Regions from separate parts of the Homo sapiens genome. Here region 1 is linked to region 2. The links come from fine-mapping of genetic effects on gene expression. A gene starts in region 2. The other region holds a variant in brackets. All regions are shown on one strand. Distances are from middle to middle.

Region 1 (11,103 bases), 42 kb after region 2:
GTAAGGAGGGAAGCTCAAGCAGGAGTCTCTCTCTTCCAGGTTCAAGGACAGAAAATAAATTTCTCCTTGGAGGAGCCAGGTGTGCCGGTGCATGCCTGTAGTCCCTGCTACTCTGGAGGCTGAGGTGGGGGGATCCCTTGGGCCCAGGAGTTCGAGTCCATTCTGGTTGGGAGATCATGTCTCTTTACTTGGGTATAATAAAATCTTTCTTAACAACATCATGTGAAAAACAGCAAATAGTTTCATGAGGTTTTTTTTTTTTTTTTTTTTTTTTTTTTGAGATGATGTTTCGCTCTTTTTGCCCAGGTTGGAGTGCAATGGCATGATCACGGCTCACTGCAACCTCCACCTCCCAGGTTTAAGTGATTCTCCTGCCTCAGCCTCCCGGGTAGCTGGGATTACAGGAGCCCACCACCATGCCCTGCTAATTTTGTATTTTTAGTGGAGACGGGTTTCCACCATGTTGGCCAGGCTGGTCTCAAATTCCTGACCTAAGGTGATCTGCGTGCCTTGGCCTCACAAAGTGCTGGGATTACAAGCATGAACCACCATGCCCAGCCTTTTTTTTTTTTTAGAGATGGAGACTCACTCTGTCACCCAGGCTGGAGTGCAGTGGCATGGTCATAGCTCACTGCAGCCTCGAGCTCCTGGGCTCAATCGATTCTCCCATGTCAGTCTCCTGAGTAGCTGGGACTCCAGGCATGTGTCACCATGCCTAAGGTTGATTTTTATAGTGCTGCTTAATTTCAGCCTATGACACCATAAACAAACCACAGTCAATAAAATAAGGATATGTGGGTGGTGCCTCTGGGTAAGAAAGGTGATACATACGCAGTTCTCTACTGGTCTGACTAGTGGAGGGGGAAATGATAGGTGAACTAGTATATTAGTTTTCCATTGCTGATGTAACAAATTCCCATATACTCAGTGGATTAAAACAATACCAACTTATTATGTTACAATTTCAAAGATTAGAAGTCTGGCACGGGGCCGGGTGTGGTGGCTCACGTCTGTAATCCATCCCAGCACTTTGGGAGGCTGAGGTGGGCAGATCACTTGAGGTCAGGAGTTCGAGACCAGCCTCGCCAACACAGTGAAACCCCGTCTCTACTAAAATTACAAAACTTAGGCACGTCTCTACTAAAAATACAAAAAATTAGCCGGGCATGGTGGCAGGCGCCTGTAATCTCAGCTACTCGGGAGGCTGAGGCAGGAGAATCGCTTGAACCTGGGAGGCGGAGGTTGCAATGAGCTGAGATCACACCACTGCACTGCAGCTTGGGCGACAGAGTGAGACTCCGTCTCAAAAAAAAAAAAAAAAAAAAAGACCAGGCGCAGTGGCTCATGCCTTGTAATCCCAGCACTTTGGGAGGCTGAGGCGAGAGCATCACTTGAGCTCAGGAGCTTGAGACCAGCCTGGAAAACATAGTGAAAACTTCATCTCTATTCCTAAAAATAAAAATTAAGAAAAGATAACTGGCAGAATAGACGAAAGCTAAACATATGCCTGTATTTTGACCCAACAATCAAGATCCTAGGTATAGACCTAAGAGAAATGAGGGTGCCATAAGGCATATGCAGAGCATGGCACTCATAGAAGGTCTAGATACAAGAGCCAAGATCCAGAACATAAATGTCCGGCCCCAGGAAAATTGATAAATTGTGGCATAGTCATACACTGAAATACTATGCAGCAATAAAAAAGAATGAATTACTGATATCTGCAACAACATGGATGAATCTTACAGATTTTTTTTTCAACAAATATGTGTCATATTGCATGATTCCAATTATATGCAATTTAGGAACAAGCATAACTAATCCCCAGTGGTAGAAGTCAGAATAGTGGCCGGACACGGTGGCTCACACCTGTAATCCCAGCACTTTGGGAGGCTGAGGCAGGCGGATCACTTGAGGTCAGGAGTTCAAGACCAGCCTAGCCAACACAGTGAAACCCTGTCTCTACTAAAACACAAAAATTAGCCGGGTGTGGTGGCACATGCCTGTAATCCCAGCTACTCAGGAAGCTGAAGCAGAAGAATCGCTTGAACCTGGGAAGCGGAGGTTGCAGTGAGCCGAGATAGCACCACTGCACTCCAGCCTGGGTGACAGAGCAAGATTCCATCTCAAAAAAAAAAAAAAAAAAAAAAAGGAATCAGAATAGTGGTTGCTTCTGGTGGAAGTATTATATTATGTGGGAAGGAGCACAGAGAAACTTGCTAGAGTGCAAGAAAGTTCTAGATCTTGATGTAGGTGTGTATATACACAGGAATATACACATGCAGAGTTTCACTGAGCCGTACCCTTAAGATCAGGACTCTCTATGAACTTAGCTAGAGATGCTGAGGTGGGAGGATCTCTTGAGCCCAGGAGTTTTGAGACTAGCTTGGGCAGCATAATGAGACCCCATCTCTAAAAAAAAAAAAAAAAAAAAAAGTTTACACCTGTATCCCAGCACTTTGTGGGGCCAAGGCGGGTATATCCCCTGAGGTTGGGAGTTCAAGACCAACCTGACCAACACAGTGAAACCCTGTCTCTACTAAAAAAAAAAAAAAAATACAAAATTAGCTGGGCATGGTGGTGCATGACTATAATCCCAGCTACCTGGGAGGCTGAAACAGGAGAATCACTTGAATCCAGGAGGCAGAGGTTGCAGTGAGCTGAGATCGTGCCATTACACTCCGGCCTGGACAACAAGAGCAAAACTCCGTCCCCAAAATAAATAAAATAAAATAAAAATTAGCCAGGCATGGTGGCATGCACCTGTAGTCCCAGCTACTCGGGCTGAGGTAGAAGGTTCACTTAAGCCCAGGAGGTCGAGGCTGCAACGAGCTATGATTGCACCACTACACTCCAGCCTGGGTGACAGAGCGAGACTCTGTCTCAAAAAAGAAAAAAAAAAAAAAAAGAAAAGAAAAGAAAGAAAGAAGGAAAGAAAAAAAAAACTATATGGTTATTCCACATGAGTAAAAAGAAATTAAAAGAGGCAAAACACACTTTGCAAATAAATGGATTCCAGAGTCAATTAAGAAAAAGCCAAACGAACTAGCTCCAGAAATGCTTTCCTGGACCAAAAACGTTGGGAAAATGTGCAGCTTTACATCCGATAACACCAGGGCATGTGTGTAATGTTGTTTCTGAAAGCTTAGCTAAAATAATGAAACCCTTCAGCATTTGGAAAAACAAGAAAAGCATGCTTAACCAAAGATGTTGATATTATGTTTCCTGATAAAAGAGATCATGTTTTTTAAAGGATTTTGGTAACAGGTTACTTTTTTTCTGAATTGGCTTTGTCACTAAAATGTCTGGTTATCACTGACCTACAAAAAAAGGCATTCTTCAGATAATCCTTGATAGTATTGTTGCTCTCACCACACTTTCCAAAGGTGCTGACCAGAGGGAGCAGAAGACTGTTTCACAGCTCAAGCACACAGCCGCACGCGCTCCACACCAGCGAAGCCCAGCAGTGCCGCATCTCATCGTGAAAAGAGGAAGCCAGAAGCTGGGAGTCACTCCACTTCTGGTCAGGGCTGTTCTGTGGAATATACTGTGGGCAGGGCCACATGTCTCCTCGAAAAATAATCTGGGCTGTCTGTCCTCATGCACACCAGAATGGGTGCCATGACAGAGAAAGCTGCATTTTATTTTCATTTTTTATTTGAGACGGAGTCTCACTCTGTTGCTCAGGCTGGGGTGCAGTGGTGCAATCTCCACTCACTGCAGCCTTTGCCTCCTGGGTTCAAGTGATTCTCCTGCCTCAGCCTCCCAAGTAGCTCGAATTACAAGTGCCCACCATCATGCCCAGCGAATTTTTGTATTTTTAGTAGAGACAGGGTTTCATCATGTTGGCCAGGCTAATCTTGAACTCCTGACCTCAAGTGATCCACCCGTCTCAGTCTCTTAAAGTGTTGGGATTACAGGCGTGAGCGCAGCCACTGCAAACATTTGGTTTGTAAAACTCTTTTTTTTTTTGAGACGGAGTTTTGCTTTTGTCCCCCAGGCTGGAGTGCAGTGTTGCGATCTCAGCTTACTGCAACCTCTGCCTCCCGGGTTCAAGTGATTCTCCTGCCTCAGCCTCCTGAGTAGCTAGGATTACAGGTGTCCACCACCATGCCCGGCTAATTTTTTTGTATTTTTAATAGCGATGGGGTTTCGCCATGTTGGGCAGGCTGGTCTCCAACTCCTGACCTCAGGTGATCTGTCCGCCTCAGCCTCCCAAAGTGCTGGGATTATAGGCGTGAGCCACCACACCCAGCTGGTGTATAAAACTCTTAAAGCACGTGTCACTCCTTTTGGAGTGCCTGCTAAAATACAGAATACTTAGCTCAGTCTGAATTTGAGATAAACGATTTTTTTTTTTTTTACTATAACTAGGTCTCAGGAAATACTTGAGTTATATTGAAAATTATTTGTCGGGCCAAGTGAAGTGGCTCACACCTGTAATCCCAGCACTTTGGGAGGCTGAGGCAGGTGGACTGCTTGAGCTCAGGAGTTTAAGATCAGCCTGGGCAATATAGTGAGACCCCATCTCTACAAAGAGTTTTTTAAAAAATTAGCTGGATGTGGGCCAGGCGTGGTGGCTCAAGCCTGTGGTCCCAGCACTTTGGGAGGCTGAGGCGGGCGGATCACGAGGTCAGGAGATTGAGACCATCCTGGCTAACACAGTGAAACCCCGTCTCTGCTAAAAAGAAAATACAAAAAAATTAGCCGGGCATGGTGGCGGGCACCTGTAGTCCCAGTTACTCGGGAGGCTGAGGCAGGAGAATGTCGCGAACCCAGGAGGCAGAGCTTGCAGTGAGCTGAGATAGCGCCCCTGCATTCCAGCCTGGGTGACAGAGCGAGACTCCGTCTCAAAAAAAAAAAAAAATAGCTGGATGTGGTGGTGTGCACTTGGGAGCTACTTGGGAGGCTGAGGTGGGAGGATGGCTTGAGCCCAGGAGGCAGAGGTTGCAGTGAGCCATGCCACTGCACTCCTGCCTGGGCAACAGAACCAGACCCTATCTCAAAAAAAAATTATTTGTGTTTCCAATAGGCACAGGGCTCACGTCTGTAATCCCAGTGGTCTGGGAGGCTGAGGCAGGAGGATCACTTGAGACCAGGAGTTCGAAACTGCAGTGAGCTATGATTGCACCATTGCATTCCAGCCTGGGTGACAGAGCAAGACCCTGTCTTAAAAAAAAATTATTTGTGTTTACCTGAAATTCAGATTTAATCGGGCACTTATTTTATTTGCTAAATCTGGTTGGGAGTGGTGGCTCATGCCTATAATCCCAGCACTTCAGGAGGCTGAGGTGTGAGGATTACTTGAGTCTAGGAGTTCGAGACCAGCCTGGGCAACGTAACATAGACCCCGTTTGTACAAAATTTTTTTGTAAAATAAAAAAGGAGTAAAATAAAATTTTTTGCTAAACCTGGCAACCCTGTTCCCTATTCCATAATATTATCTTGCTAAGTCACTATATTGTTGCATATCTGCTTGGAAGAAATAACTTTTTTTTTTTTTGAGACGGAGTTTTGCTCTTGTTGCCCAGGCTAGAGTGCAATGGCACGATCTTGGCTCACTGCAACCTCCACCTCCTGGGTTCAAGTGATTTTCCTGCCTCAGCCTCCCCAGTAGCTGGGATTACAGGTGTATACCACCACTCCCAGCTAATTTTGTATTTTTACAATTTTGTATTCTGGAGTATTTTAAATACGATAGAGTATTGTATTTTAAATACAAAATTGTATTTTACAATTTTGTATTTTAGAGACGGGGTTTCACCCTGTTGGCCAGGCTGGTCTTGAACTCCTGACCTCAGGAGATCTGCCCGCCTTGGCCTCCCAAAGTGTTGGGATTACAAACATGAGCCACTTCGCCTGGCCAGAAATAACTTGTTCTCAGAAAAAACTTGGAGTTAGAATGTTATTCTATGAGGGACCCTCTGAGTGGGAATATTTGAGAGACTTGATAAAATTGGGAACATGTTGTGTGTTGACTCCACGCTTGACTGATATGATCAAGACATCCCCTTGGTGCT[C/T]CCTCTCGTGGCAAGAAGAGTAACTGCTCCTTCAATTTCACTCCCAGACTCTGCCCCCACCTCCCCACCCACCTCTTGGTCTCCAGGGACCATGCTGGTACCCTGAGCCTGTCGGAGCCAGAGATTGCCCCAGGACTCAGCGCTTTAGCCTCAAATGAGTTGCCCTACTTCAAAGGGACCTCACTTTGTGAGATGCACTGTATAGAATTTTTTTTTTTTTTTGAGATGGAGTCTCGCTGTGTCGCCCAGGCTGGAGTGCAATGGCATGATCTCAGCTCACCGCAACCTCTGCCTCCCGGGTTCAAGTGATTCTTGCCCCAGCCTCCCGAGTAGCTGGGATTACAGGCATGTGCCACCACGCCCAGCTAATTTTGTATTTTTTAGCAGAGACAGGGGTTCTCCATGTTGGCCAGGTTGGTCTCGAACTCCCAACCTCAGGTGATCCGCCCACCTTGGCCTCCCAAAGCGCTGGGATTACAGGTGTGAGCCACCGTGCCTGGCCCTAATTTTTGTATTTTTAGTAGAGACGGGGTTTCACTATGTTGGCCAGGCTGGTCTTGAACTATTGAGCTCAGGTTATCCACCTGCCTCAGCCTCCCAAAGTGCTGGGATGACAGGCATGAGCCACCGTGCCTGGCCATTGTATGCAATTTGGAGGGTGGTTCCTGAGACACAGAGAGAACAATCCGAGTTGGAGTCTGAGGAGGTGGCAGCTCATTGCTGGGAGAGAGACGTCCTCCTGCTTCTGAGGGGAGCAGTTTTGGGGTGCTCCTGCATAAACTGTATGGGGTCCGGGAGAGCTCTTGGGGGCAAGAGAGGAGGTCAGGATGGGATGGGGGTGAGGGCGAGGTTTTTGAGTCATGGCTGGAGGCAACAAGGCTTATGGCCCTGACTTGGAGGCCTGAGCACAGCGAGCTTTCTGAACCCCTCTGGAAAACAAAGGAGGTGGGGTGTTGCAGGACCTCAGGTACTCAAGCTGAGCAGCCATTTCTCCTGCAGGTTGTTTGTATTTTCTGAATTCTGAACATCTGAAACGAGAATGCGTATGAGAGGGGAAGCTGTTTAGATAATGAAAACCCATTGAGATTAGTTTAATCAAACACACAGGGACACGGACAGGCGTGGTGGCTCACGCCTGTAATCCCAACAGTTTGGGAGGCTGAGGTGGGTGATCATCTGAGGTCAGGAGTTTGAAACCAGACTGGCCAATATGGTGAAACCCTGTCTCTACTTAAAAAAAAGTACAAAAAATTAGCAGGGAGTGGTGGCTCACGCCTGTAATCCCAGCACTTTGGGAGGCCGAGGCGGGTGGATTGCCTGAGGTCTGGAGTTCAAGAGCAGCCTGGCCAACATAGTGAAACACCATCTCTTCTAAAAATACAAAAAATTAGCTGGGAGTGGTGGCGGGCACCTGTGATCCCAGCTACTAAGGAGGCTGAGACAGGAGAATCGCTTGAACCCAGGAGGCAGAAGTTGCAGTGAGCCAAGATCGCGCCATTGCACTCCAGCCTGGGCAACAAGAGTGAAACTCCGGGCTAGATGAGGTGGCTCACGCCTGTAATCCCAGCACTTTGGGAGGCCAAGGTGGGCAAATCATGAGGTCAGGAGGTCGAGACCAGCCTGGCCAACATGGTGAAACCCCCTTTCTACTAAAAATACAAAAAATTAGCTGGGTGTTTGGTAGTGGCAGGCGCCTGTAATCCCAGGCTGAGGCAGGAGAACTGCTTGAACCTGGGAGGTGGAGGTTGCAGTGAGCTGAGATTGTGCCACTGCACTCCAGCCCTGGTAACAGAGTAAGACTCTGTCTCAGAAAAAAAAAAAAAAGAAAAGAAAAAGAAAAAAAAATTAGCCAGGTGTGGTTGCAGGCACCTGTAATCCCAGCTACTCGGGAGGCTAGGCAGGATAATCGCTTGAACCTGGGAGGCGGAGGTTGCAGGGAGCCGAGATCGCGCCACTGCACTCCAGCCTGAGCAACAAGAGTGAAACTCAATCTCAAAAAAAGAAAAAAAAGTGTTTGTCCCTGCTTAAAAGTCTCTGTGGCGGCTCTAGGCTCTTATAATAAACTCAAGCTCTCCTTGGTCGCTGCTCACTGTCCCGGTCCCCGCCTGCTCCCTGTGTTCCTTGTTGCCATGCCTCAGAAAATTGAGGAAATCAAGGTCTTTCTGCTCACAGCCCGACAAAAGGATGCCAAATCTGTCAAGATCAAGAAAAATAAGGACAATGCGCCGGGCACGGTGGATCATGCCTGTAATCCCAGCACTTTGGGAGGTCTAGGCGGGTGGATCACGAGGTCAGCAGTTCAAGACCAGCCTGACCAACATGGTGAAACCCCGTCTCTACTAAAAATACAAAAAATTAGCTGGACATGGTGGCGGGCACCTGTAATCCCAGCGACTTGGGAGGCTGAGGTAGAAGAATCGCTTGAAACTGGAAGGCGGAGGTTGCAGTGAGCCGAGATTGCACCACTGCACTCTAGCCTGGGCAATAAGAGCAAAACTCTGTCTCAAAATAAAAAAAAGAAAAAAAAGAAAAAAAAAGAAAAATAAGGACAATGTGAAGTTTAAAGTTCGATGCAGCAGATACCTTTATACCCTGGTCATCATTGACAAAGAGAAGGCAGAGAAATTGAAGCAGTCCCTGGCCACCATGCCTGGCTAATTTTGTATTTTCAGTAATTCTGTATTTTAGTAATGTAGTATTTCGTATTTTAGTAATTTTGTATTTTAGCCTCCAGAGTAGCTGGGACTACTTGGATGCCACCACGCCCAGCTAGGTTTTTACATTTTTTGTAGAGATGGGGGTCTTGCTATGTTGCTGAGGCTGGTCTTGAACTCCTGGCCTCAAGGAATCCTCCCACCTTTGCCTCCTGAAGTGTTGGGATTACAGGCGTGAGCCACTGCTTCCAGCCATTGGTAAATTTCGCACAATTTTTGTACTGGCCCAGAGAGTTTTGCATATCGTCAGCCACAGAAAAAGTAGCAAGTAACAATTATGTTACACAAACAGCCACATAATTGTCCCTGGTAGACTAAAGTAAACCATATCTGTTTCTCCAATTTTACACTCTTTCATGGTTAGGTTTTTTGGCGATCCGATAATGTGTTTCTTCTTCTGCCACCACGGAGAAAAAACACATATTCACCTAAAAATACTAAAGTCAAATTTACTAATAAAAATGTCTTCCTATTTCGATACGCATCATCAGGTTAAAAAACCCTCTGAGGCTGGGCGCAGTGGCTCACGCCTGTAATCGCAGCACTTTGGGAGGCTGAGGGGGGCGGATCACCTGAGGTCAAGAGTTTGAGACCAGCCTGACCAACATGGAGAAACCCTATCTCTACTAAAAATACAAAAGTAGCTGCGTGTGGCGGTGCATGCCTGTAATCCCAGCTACTTGGGAGGCTGAGGCAGGAGAATCGCTTGAACCCAGGAGGCAGAGTTTGCAGTGAGCCGAGATCGTGCCATTGCACTCCAGCCTGAGCAACAAGAACGAAAACTCTGTCTTAAAAAAAAAGAAAAACAGCTGGGCGCGGTGGCTCACACCTGTAATCCCAGCACTTTGGAAGGCCGAGGTGGGTGGATCACGAGGTCAGGAGTTTGAGACCAGCCTGGCCAACATGGTGAAAACCCGTCTCTACTAAAAATACAAAAATTAGCCAAGCGTGGTGGCGCATGCCTGTAATCCCAGCTACTCAGGAGGCTGAGGCAGGAGAATTGAGGCTTGAACCTGGGAGGTGGAGGTTGCTGTGAGCTGAGATCACCCCACTGCACTCCAGCCTGGGCAACAGAGGGAGACTCCGTGTCAAAAAACAAAACAAACAAAAAAAAACAACAAAACAACCTAAAAAACCCTCTGAGGCTGGGCGTGGTGTCTCATGCCTGTAATCCCAGCACTTCAGGAGGCTGATGCATGAGGATTGCTTGAGTCTGGGAGTTCCAGACCAGCCTGGGCAACACAGCAAGACCGTCTCTATAAAACAAACAAACAGACCCCTTCTCAAATGAGAAGGAAATCTTCCAGCTTTATTACATAATGTTTTCCCACAGCCTTTTTATTTTAATTATTATTTTTAAAATCGGGGGCAAGATGGTCTCACTATGTTGCCCAGGCTCATCTCCAAGTCCTGGGCTCAAGCCATCCTCCCACCTCAGCTTTCTAATTTGCTGGGATTACAGGCATGCACCACCATGCTCAGCATCTTGTTAATTTTTTTTTTTTTTTGAGATGGAGTTTCACTCATTGCCCAGGCTGGCGTGCAATGGAGCATTCTCAGCTCACTGAAACCTCTGCCTCCAGGGTTCAAGCGATTCTCCTGCCTCAGCCTCCTGAGGAGCTGGGATTACAAGCACCTGCCACCACACATGGCTAATTTTTTTGTATTTTTAGTAGAGACGGGGCTTCACCATGTTGGCCAGGTTGGTCTCGAACTCCCGACCTCAGGTGATCCGCCTGCCTCGGCCTCCCAAAGTACTGAGATTACAGGCGTTAGCCAAAGAGCCTGGCCTAATTTTTGTATTTTTAATGGAGACGGGGTTTCACCATGTTGGCCAGGCTGGTCTCGAACTTCTGACCTCAGGTGATCTGCCTACCTCGGCCTGCCAAAGTATTGGGATTACAGGTGTGAGCCACCGCGCCCGGCCTCCTTTTTAATTTTGTAGGCAAAACTTTCCAAAATAATTTCTTATGAAGTTTCCACTAAAGAAAGAAAACAGTTGCTAAATTCTATGGTTTCTAAACAGCTAATAGACAGGCGCCTTAGGGCAAAATTCTTACTTTCCTTCTTTCTTTTTTCACCATGCAAGCTGGTGCTGAGGGCAAAATTCTTATTTATTTATACTTTAAGTTCTGGGGTACATGTGCAGAACGTGCAGGTTTGTCACATAGGTATACATGTGCCCTGGTGGTTTGCTGCACGCATCAACCCGTCATCTACATTAGTTATTTCTCCTAATGCCATCCCTCCCCAAAATGCTTTTTTTTTTTCTTTGAGACAAGGTCTCTCTGTGTTGCCCAGGCTGGAGTGCAGTGGCGCGATCATGGCCCACTGCAGCCTTGACCTCCTGGGCTCAGATAATCCTCTCA
Region 2 (11,103 bases):
GATCAGCCCCCTCTTTGGCCATCTGGACATGCATAGTGGCGCCCAGTCAGGACCCATGCACGGGTGAGACCCTGCCAGGCCAGGATGGAGGGGTGGGGGACCCCAGGAGACTCAAGCCTCTGAAGCCTCCTGTCCTGTCCCCCTGCCCACCCCCAGCTTTGGCTTCGGGTTGCCCACGTCACGGGCCTACGCGGAGTACCTCGGTGGGTCTCTGCAGCTGCAGTCCCTGCAGGGCATTGGCACGGACGTCTACCTGCGGCTCCGCCACATCGATGGCCGGGAGGAAAGCTTCCGGATCTGACCCCACAGCCTTTGGCCTGCTCACCCGACCAGCCTGGGCCGCATTCCCTGCAGGACCTCCCGGGTCAGGCAGGGCGGCCCCCTGCTCCACACACTGCTGCATCTTGGGTCTCAGGGACCCAGACAGATGGACTTACATGGAGCTGGGCACTGCCCTGCCTCAACAGGGTCCATTGCCTCCTCGCCTCCAGAACTTGGAGCAGGGAAGTGGGCACCCTGAGGCCTCCAGCACCAGTTCCGTCATTCTCGTTCCTGGGGAACCCCCACTCTGACCTGTTATTAAAGTTCACATTTTGAATGCCCTCTCGGGCCCCGTGTGTGGGGAGGGCAGGTGAACTTTTGTTTCTGCCCCCATTCAGGTTCACTGAGCCCTTGGGTTGAACTGGTTCGTGTCCCAGTCTCTTACCTGCCCTGAGAGCCTGGCAGGCCAGGAGTAGAATGGGTCCCAAGTCTGTTGCATGTTTGATTTGGTGGGAGTGGGATGACTGCAGCACCTTATACAAAGAGCTTTCATTCATCTTGTTGAACAAATGTTTCCGGGTCCCAGATAATATTGAAGGCCCAGACTGACCCAGCTTCGGGCATCAGTTTTGACTCTTCCTTTCCTGGCAGTCACAGTTTCTAGAGGTGAAGGTCACCAGACTGGGCAAACTCCTGAGCCAACTGCTTCCCAAGCCTGAGTAGGTTAAAAATACTGTGTCTGCTGCTGCCAAGGAAAAGAACATACAAGGTTGTGCCTTGGCAGGCCCTAGCAGGGACTGGGTGCCCCACTGCAAGGAAAGGTGGGGCCCTGATAGAAAGGACCAAGGATTTGGGCAAAGATATCAGGTAGGCTCAAGGTTAGACCTGAATCAGAACTCCAGATGACATCTTAGGTAGGAACACCCTACCCACCTTGCCAGGGAAGAAAGGCCTAAGGGCGGCCTGGTGGGGCTGGGAGGAGAACTGGAAAGTTCTCTTGCCTTCACATGTGAGCTCCCACAGCAAACTTCCTGAGGCTGGCTCTAGGCCTGTACCATCTCCTACCCTTCACGGGGATGGAGGGGAAGTTGTATGTGGAAGCCAAATGGCAGGGGCTAGGAAACCACAGTGACTTGCTAGACTGAAAAATCCCGCCAGCTGCAAGGCAGGGTGCTGAGGCTGGAGAGGCAGGCAGCAGTCAGAGGCCAGGGCCCTGAAACATGGGATTTATCTTGAGCCATAGGGATCCATGGGTGAGTTTTTATTTATTTAGAAATGGGGTCTTGCTCTGTTGCCCAGGCTGGAATATGGTGGCTGCAGAGTTCACTGCAGCCTTGAACTCCTGGGATCAAGAGATTCTCCCACCTCAGCCTTCTGAGTAGCTTGGACCATCATGCCAGGCTAAATTTTAAAATTTTTTGTAGAAACAGGGTTTCTACAAAGCCCTATGTTGCCCCGGGCTGGACTTGAACTTCTGGGCTCAAATGATCCTTCCACCCCAGCCTCCCAAAGTGGTGGGGTTACAGGCATGAGCCACTGCAGCTGGCCCATGAGTGGGTTTTGAGCTGGGAAGGGATGTTTCTGGTTGGAGTCCCTGAGAGGATTCATGTCCACGTGATTTCTTAAGAAAGTGCTCCCAGAACAGAGTAGGGGAAGTAGGAAGGGGAAGGGGAGGAAGCCAAGCAAGGATGTGACCTCAGGCAAAAGCCCAGAACCAGTCAATTATGCCTCAGGGTTGAAGGTAAGAGAGCTAAACCTCAGAGTTACTGATTAATTTCTCCACTTGGCAGTCACTGGTTAAAGTCAGTTGGGAAAGTGAACAGCTCTATTAACCTAAGGATGGTTTTTTAAGAAGAGCCTCAGGTGCTGGTGTGGGTCTTTGAAAGCACATCAAAGGTAATCTGGGCACACAGAAACAGCAAGAACTCCCAGAGGATCTGGGTGGAGCACCTACATTGTTTTTTTGTTTGTTTTGTTTCGTTTTGTTTTTTTAAACGGAGTCTCAATCTGTTGCTCAGGCTGGAGTGCAGTGGCTGGATCTTCGCTCACTGCAACCTCCGCCCCACCCCCCCCCAACCCCAGGTTCAAGCGATTCTCCTGCCTCAGCCTCCCGAGTAGCTGGGATTACAGGCGCGTGCCACCACACCCAGCTAATTTTTCTATTTTTAGTAGAGATGGGGTTTCACCACGTTGGCCAGGCTGGTCTCGAACTCCCAACCTCGTGATCCATCCACCTCAGCCTCCCAAAGTGCCAGGATTACAGGCATGAGCCACCATGCCTGTCGGATGTTTCTTGATTTGTAACCTCTGAGAGACCCATCCGCAGGCCCTGAGCATTCCACTCCTCTCAGAATTGTTTCCAAGCCCAATAACCACATTATAAATCAAACAAGATTCAGAGAATAGCCAAAGGGAATGTTTACTGAGTACCTACCCGGTCTGGCACTTTGCAATACACTTGTATATTGCTAAGACGGATAGTTCAACCGTTACATAGTTATATGATTGATAGTTATACATGCTTAACTGCTGGGGATTGGTTCCAGGACCGCCTGTGAATACCGAAATCTGCAGGCGCTCAAGTCCTACAGTTGGCCCTGCCAAACAGCAGATATGAAGTCAGCTCTTCAGATCTGTGGGTTCTGCATCCTTACAATATTTCCTTTCCTTTCCTTTTCTTTTCCTCCCTTCCTCCCTCTTTTTTCTTTTTCTTTTTTGAGATGGAGTCTTGTTGTGTCGGCCAGGTTGGAGTGCAGTGGCGCGATCTCGGCTCACTGCAACCTCCACCTCCTGGGTTCAAGCAGTTCTCCTGCCTCAGCCTCCCAAGTAGCTGGGATTACAGGCACACGCCACCACCCCTGACTGTTTTGTATTTTCAGTAGAGACGGGGTTTCACAATGTGGGCCAAGCTGGTTTTGAACTCCTGACCTCAAGTAATCCACCTGCTTCGGCCTCCCAAAGTGCTGGGATTACAGGTGTGAGCCACCGCGCCCAGTCTTTTTTTTTTTTTTTTTGAGGCAGAGTTTCACTCTTGTTGCCCAGGCTGGAGTGCAATGGCACAATCTCAGCTCACCACAACCTCTGCCTCCCAGGTTCAAGCGGTTCTCCTGCCTCAGCCTCCCGAGTAGCTGGGATTACAGGCATGCGGCCACCACGCCTGGCTAATTTTGTATTTTTAGTAGAGATGGGGTTTCTCCATGTTGGTCAGGCTGGTCTCGAACTCCCGACCTCAGGTGATCTGCCTGCCTCGGCCTCCCAAAGTGGTGGGATTACAGGAGTGAGCCACTGCGCCCAGCCTCCTTTTCTTTCCCCCCTTTTTTTTTGAGACAGGGTCTCTGTCACCCAAGCTGGAGTGCAGTGGAGGGATTATAGCTCACTCAGCCTCGACCTCCTGGGTTTAAGCGATCCCTCTGCCTCAGCCTCCTGAGTAGGTGGGACTACAGGTGCGGGCCCCGAGGCCCAGCTAATTTTTTTTTTCCCCCAAATTTTTAGTAGAAAGGAGGTCTCTATGCTGCCCAGGCTGGTCTTGAACTCCTGGCCTGAAGCGATCCTCCTGCTTGGATTCCTGAAGTGCGAGATTACAGGTGTGAGCCACCATACCTCAACACTGTATTTTCAACCCGCTCTTCGTTCAATCTCCAAAGGTGGGACATGCGGATATGGAGGGCCGATTGTGTATGGTTGGACCATACACATATAAATGGCTTTAACCTTTACTGACTCTCACAGAACCCTCAGTGCAGTGGCGTGATCTCAGCTCACTGCAAGCTCCACCTCCCGGGTTCACACCATTCTCCTGCCTCAGCCTCCCGAGTAGCTGGGACTACAGGGGCCCGCCACCACGCCCGGCTAATTGTTTTGTATTTTTTTTTAGTAGAGACGGAGTTTCATCGTGTTAGCCAGAATAGTCTCGATCTTCTGACCTCGTGATCCACCCGCCTAGGCCTCCCAAAGTGCTGGGATTACAGGCGTGAACCACCGCACCCGGCCTTTTTATTTTTTTTGAGATGGAGTCTGGCTCTTGGTCCCCAGGCTGGAGTGCAATGGCGGGATCTCGGCTCACTGCAACCTCCGCCTCCCGGGTTCAAGCGATTCTCCTGCCTCAGCCTCCCGAGTAGCTGGGACTACAGGTGCGTGCCACCACGCCCGGCTAAATTTTGTATTTTTAGTAGAGACGGAGTTTCACGGTGTTAGCCAGGATGGTCTCGATCTCCGCCCGCCTCGGCCTCTCAAAGTGCTGAGATTACAGGCGTGAGCCACCACGCCCCGCCCAACTCGTCCTTTCTTTAGACTTTATCCTGTGAGGGTGAATTATGGCCTGTCCCTGGACACACCCGTTCTGCTTTCCCCGCACCAACTGTATCCCAAATAGGGGAAGTAGTCTCTTCAACCTTCAAAAATGGGGCACTGGCTGGGCACGGTGGCTCACGCCTGTAACCCTAGCACTTTGGGAGGCCGAGGCGGGCGGATCACCTGAGGTCAGGAGTTCGAGACCAGCCTGGCCAACAGGGTGAAGCCCTCTCTCTACTAAAAATACAAAAAATAGCCGGGCGTGGTGGCGCGCGATTGTAATCCCAGCTATTCAGGAGGCTGAGGCAGGAGAATCGCTTGAACCCGGGAGGCGGAGGCTGCAGTGAGCCGAGATCGCGTCACTGCACTCCAGCCTGGGCGACAGAGCGAGACTCCATCTCAAAAAAAAAAAAGGGGGGGGGGCGGGGAGCGACATTAGGCCAGCGCGAGTGTGCGGCTCCAGGCCACCAGGGCGGCCGCTCTGGCTCTGCCCTGTTAAAGTGGGGGCAGCGCCCGCTGAAAATTGGCACATCTTGGCTTCCGCAGGTACCAGGGCCTTTAAAAAGGTTCAGCTGGCCGGGCACGGTGGCTCACGCCTATAATCCCAGCACTTTGGGAGGTTGAGGCTGGCAGATCACGAGGTCAAGAGATCAAGACTATCCTGGACAACATGGTGAAACCCCGTCTCTACTAAAAATACAAAAATTAGATGGGCGTGGTGGCGCGCGCCTGCAGTCCCAGCTACCCGGGAGGCTGAGGCAGAGGAATCGCTTGAACCCGGAGGCGGAGGTTGCAGTGAGCCGAGATCGCGCCTCTGCACTCCAGCCTGGGCGACAGAGCATGATTCCGTCTCAAAATAAATAAATAAATAAATAAATAAATAAATTAAAAAAAGGTTGAGTTGAGTCATCGCATGAGGTAAGTCTGTCTCCTCTCCTCACCCATAGGCTGCAGCCACAGGTCCGCACGGAAAACCAGGAGCTCCAAGACTGCCGCACACTCAACATCCAACTCGCGGGGCCGCGGGGACGGCCACAGAAGCCAATCGGCTCCTGCTACATCACAGACCCCGCCCTCAAACCTTGAGGAGCCCGCCCCACGCACTGCTGACCCGGAGCCAAAAGAACTGCGTGGCGTCCGATTCTGGCGTCACTTCCCTTCCCGCGATGGCGGCACAGGGAGCTGCTGCGGCGGTTGCGGCGGGGACTTCAGGGGTCGCGGGGGAGGGCGAGCCCGGGCCCGGGGAGAATGCGGCCGCTGAGGGGACCGCCCCATCCCCGGGCCGCGTCTCTCCGCCGACCCCGGCGCGCGGCGAGCCGGAAGTCACGGTGGAGATCGGAGAAACGTACCTGTGCCGGCGACCGGATAGCACCTGGCGTGAGGGCGGGGCCCAGGGCTGGGGGCGGGGCGGAGCTCAGGGCCAGGGGGTGGGGCGGGGCCTGAGGACAGGCTGTCAGTGAGGCCAAGATCCGGGGGCTGGGAGTGGAGAGGAGGAGGGGCGGGGCTTGAGGAAAGAACGCCGCGTTCCGGGCGCTGAGAAACCAGCCGGGTTGTGGGAGGCTGTTGACCTTGAATTATGCCGAGCGACGCCTACAAACCCACCGCTCAGGCCTTCACCAGGATTGTTCCCATTCCACTTCCTTGCCCAGTCTTAGGCTTCATTCCTTTTTCTTGCTAACGCTGCTTCCTCACCCTCTCTTGTCTCTGCGTCTTCTTTTTCCATTTGTCCCTGGCAGCCATCCGCAGAGAGAAGACCTTCCAGAAACAACAGGCTTCCCTTTCCTAAAGTTCTGCTGCCTTCTCTCATTTTCAAAATTAACCCCAAACTCCTTAGGGTGGCATTCATTTTTGTGACCTCTCCAGTTTCTAGCCAACACTAGGAAAGGGCATTGCCAGGCCAGAACACACTGTGCCCTCTGAAGACCACACGCCCTTTACCACCTGTGCCCTTTGCTTGGAATGCTTTTTCTTCCCTTTCTCCTTGTTTGCCTGCCTAGCTCCTACTCATCCTCTTAGCTTCATATCCTTTGTGATGTCATCCTTGATTCCCCTTCAGGCAAAGTGAGTGGTTCCCTTCTCTATGTTCCTGCAACATTTTTTTCCTACCTCAGTCATAGTTTTTGTAACATTATGTTGTAATTTTCTCTCTCTGTCTTCCTCCATCATACTGGGAACTTCTGGAGGGCAGCACTTCTTGTGATTCATCACTGTGTCCTCTGTACCCGGCAACAACACAGCATAGGGCCAGACACGTAGTGGTTGCCTTACTCATTTATTGAATGCTCTGCTAATTGTCAGGTGCGCTGCTAAAAATTTTGGAGGCATTAATTCACCTTCTAAGGTTGGTACTATTATCCCTTTTGTCTTTTTTTTTTTTTTTTTTTTTGAGACAGGATCTCGCTCTGTCACCCAGGTGGGATTGCCGTGGCACGATGACAGCTCACTGAAGCCTAGACCTTCTAGGCTCAAGTGATCCTCCCACCTCACCCTCTCAGAGTGTTGGGATTACTGGCATGAGCCACTGTGCCCAGCTGTTATCCCTTTTCACAGATGAAGAGACTGAGGCTCAGAAAGATGGAATAACTTGCTCAGTTACACATAGCTAGGAAGTAGGGAGCTGGAATTTTGTGTATTTTTTTTTGTTTGTTTGTTTGAGATGGAATCGCTCTCTGTTGCCAGGCTGGAGTGCAGTGGCGCCATCTTGGCTCACTGCGATCTCTGCCTCCCGGATTCAAGCGATTCTCCTGCCTCAACCTCCTGAGTAGCTGGGACTACAGTTGTGCGCCACCACACCCAGCTAATTTTTGTATTTTTAGTAGAGACGAAGTTTCACCATGTTGGCCAGGATGGTTTTGACCTCTTAACCTCGTGATTCACCCACCTCGGCCTCCCAAAGTGCTGGGATTACAGGCGTGAGCCACGATGCCCAGCCCTGGAATTATACATTAATGTAGGTTATCTTAATCCAGAGCCAGCACTCATGATCCCTGAACAAATGAACAACTGCGGGTATGTGGTAAAATGAGCATTGAATTTAGAGTCAGACTTAAATTCAGTTAAGTATTAGCTCTTACCACTTTTCAAATCTGTGACCCTAGGTAAGCCTCAGTTTTGTTCTGTTTTTTGGGGTTCTTTTTTTTGAGACAGAGTCTTGCTCTTGTCACCCAGGCCACAGTGCAGTGGTACAATCTCGGCTCACTGCAACCTCTGCCTCCCGGGTTCAAGCAATTCTCCTGCCTCAGCCTTGCCTCCCAGGTTCAAGCAATTTTCCTGCCTCAGCCTCCCGAGTAGTTGGGATTACAGGTGTGTGCCACCATGCCTGGCTTTTTTTTTTTTCGTCTTTTTGGTACAGATGGGGTTTTGCCATGTTGACCAGGCTGGTCTCAAACTCCTGGCCTCAAGTGATCTGCCCATCTCGGCCTCCAGAAGTACTGGGATTACAGGTGTGAGCCACACACCCAGCCAGTTATTTTCTCATTCGTAAAATGAGAATAACAGCCTCAACCTGATCCACCTCACAGTTGTGGCAGTGATTGAGTAGAATGGCAGAGGTGGACCAGTGAGGTTAGCTGATGTGTGGCCCTGAACTCTGGAAACTGCTTCTCAGTGTGCAGGATTCCTTTTGTTCCAGCCTTACCTTCCTGATGACCCTAGCCTTTTTCCATCACAGATTCTGCTGAAGTGATCCAGTCTCGAGTGAACGACCAGGAGGGCCGAGAGGAATTCTATGTACACTACGTGGGCTGTGAGTGGCTTGGCACATCTGGGCGTGGGTGCAGGGAGTTGGCTGCCCTGGCAGCACTCTTATGGCCCATACTTACAGTTAACCGGCGGCTGGACGAGTGGGTAGACAAGAACCGGCTGGCGCTGACCAAGACAGTGAAGGATGCTGTACAGAAGAACTCAGAGAAGTACCTGAGCGAGCTCGCAGAGCAGCCTGAGCGCAAGATCACTCGCAACCAAAAGCGCAAGCATGATGAGATCAACCATGTGCAGAAGGTCCGGATCCCTTCCCATCCACGGGCCCAGGAGGCCCAGCTTCTCTGCCAGTTCCCTTGGGTCTCTCGGGCCCCAGTGCCAAAACCATAGCAAATCCCATTTCTTAAGCTCCTGTAGTGTGTCAGGGACTTTACCTACTTCCTCTTACTTACTTTTCATAGGTAAGAAAACAGACAGAGGGTAAGGGCTTCGCTGCAGTCTCACAGCAAGGAAATGGCACAGCTGGGACTAGAACTCAGGCCTCCGGCACTGGTAGCCTCTTTTGTCTCCTAGTAGCTGTGTCTTAGTAGAAAAAATGACTTGAAGTTCAGTGGGAAAGACGAGAATGTTATTCGGCAGTTGCTATAGCCAAGCACCCTGCCAAGTGCTGTATATGTATAAGCTCCTCAAATCCTTCCCAACAATTCAACACACAGGAATAGTTACTTTTTTGGTAGGTGAGGAAGCAGGCTGAGAGAGATTAAGTAACATGCCCAAGGTCACACAGCCAGTAAAACGGTGGGCTGGAATTAGAATAATAATGCCAAACACTTGTTAGCCGGTGAGCAGAAGTATTCAGCTAAATGGTTTTTGTGTGTGTGTGTGTGTGTGTGTGTGTGTGTTTTGTTTTTTGTTTTTTTTTTTGAGACGGAGTCTTGCTCTGTCGCCCAGGTTGGAGTACAGTGGAATGATCTCGGCTCACTGTAAACTCCGCCACCTGGGTTCAAGCAATTTTCCTGTCTCAGCCTCCCAAGTAGCTAGGACTACAGGTACCTGCCACCACGCCCGGATAATTTTTGTATTTTTAGTAGAGACGAGGTTTCGCCATATTGGTCAGGCTGGTCTCGAACTCCTGACCTCAGGTGATCTGCCCACCTCGGCCTCCCAAAGTGCTGGGATTACAGGCGTGAGCTACTGCGCCCGGCCTAAGCTAAGTGTTTTAATACATGACCTCACTGACATTTCACAGTAGGCCTGTGAAGTAAGCATGCAGAAGAGCTACAGATAAGTTTAGGGACCCAGACAGGAATTTGATCAACCAGCTAAATTGTGCTACCTCAGAGCCAGAGGCCTTAGCAATGATTTTGGTTTTTTTCTTAAGAGACGGGAGTCTTGGTGTGTTGCTCAGGCTGGACTTGAACTCCTGGGCTCAAATGTTCTTCCTGCCTTAGCCTTCTAAGTAGCTGGGACTACAGGAGTGCATCCCTGTACCTGCCTTGGTTTTTTCTTGTATTGATACTTAATAATTGTACATATTATTGTTATTTTTTTTTTTTGAGACAGCGTCTTACTCTATCGTCTAGGCTGAGTGCAGTGGCACAATCATGGCTCACTTCAGCCTCAACCTCCTGGGCTCAAGCAATCCTCCTGCCTCAGCCTCCTGAGTAGCTGGGACCATAGGCACGTGCCACCATGCCCAGCTAATTTTTTATTTTTTTGTAGAGACGGGATCTGCTATGTTGCCCACACTAGTCTCAAACTCCTGGTCTCAAGCGATCCTCCTGCCTTAGCCTCCCAAAGTGCTGGGATTACAGGTGTGAGCCACTGCGCCCGACCAAGTCTCAGTTTCTAAATTTATAAAAATCAGGAGTGCACACCAGAGCAAGATTTGTCAAAGTCTCCAGACACCCAGACATTTGTTACTTTCAGCTATTGCAGCTTCATCCTTCTGAGTACATGAGTTAGTGGGCAAGCCCAACATTTAAATTTCTTTAAATGGAAGAAAGAAAGTGGATAAGATAGAAAAATCAGGGTGTTGCACTTTATTAAGTGTAGGTATTGTTTTGAGAAGCTTTTATTTCACACCCAATAAAAGTGTGCAGGATTCCTCTTGTTCCAGCCTTACCTTCCCGATGATCCTAGCACATACTTGTGTGTATATACAGACATGTTACAGTGCCAAGTGTACTTCCTACTGTGGTGTGATTTAAAAAATTGAAATACCCTAAACTGGAAGAACTCCTCAAGGTCTAAACTGCCGAATCGAACTTCCTATTGTAATGGAAATGTTCTATAGCTGTACTATCTAGTACCGTAGCCACTAGCCACATGTAGCTGTTGAGCACTTGAAATGTGTCTAGTGTGACGAAGAATTAAGAATTTTAGCTGGGCGCGGTGGCTTACGCCTGTAATCCCAGCACTTTGGGAGGCCAAGGTGGGTGGATCACCAGGTCAGAAGATCGAGACCATCCCGGCTAACATGGTGAAACCCCATCTCTACTGAAAAATACAAAATAATTAGCCGGGCGTGGTGGCGTGCACCTGTAGTCCCAGCTACTCGGGAGGCTGAGGTAGGAGAATGGCGTGAACCCGGGAGGTGGAGCTTGTAGTGAGCCGAGATCCTGGGCTCACTCCAGCCTGGGTGACAGAGTGAGACTCCGTCTCAAAAAAAAAAAAATTTTTAAATTATGGGTGCAGTGGCTCACGCCTGTAATCCCAACACTTTGGGAGGCGGAGGTGGGTGGATCACTTAAGGTCAGGGGATTGAGACCAGCCTGGCCAACATGGCCAAAACCCCATCTCTACTAAAAATACAAAAATTAGCCGGGCGTGGTGGTGCACACCTGTAATCCC

Evidence for each region. PIP is the estimated chance that this variant, and not a neighbour inherited with it, causes the effect.
Region 1: its variant is fine-mapped to the expression of KAT8 in whole blood (TOPMed, PIP 0.96).

The regions. Positions count from the first base shown.
Region 1 is chr16:31,153,833-31,164,935 of GRCh38, forward strand. No RefSeq gene overlaps it. Among named protein-coding and RNA genes, the nearest start is that of PRSS36, 9.3 kb to the left of the region's middle. The variant C/T (reference allele first, on the strand shown) is at 6,021.
Region 2 is chr16:31,111,965-31,123,067 of GRCh38, forward strand. KAT8 (lysine acetyltransferase 8) reads left to right here and starts at 5,700. Exons shown (of 11, transcript NM_032188.3): 1 at 5,700-5,928; 2 at 8,222-8,296; 3 at 8,375-8,550. The coding sequence starts at 5,718. It overlaps BCKDK (branched chain keto acid dehydrogenase kinase), which reads left to right. Exons shown (of 12, transcript NM_005881.4): 11 at 1-63; 12 at 157-827. The coding sequence ends at 301. RefSeq lists silencers at 5,518-5,744, 5,644-5,993 and an enhancer at 6,164-6,283.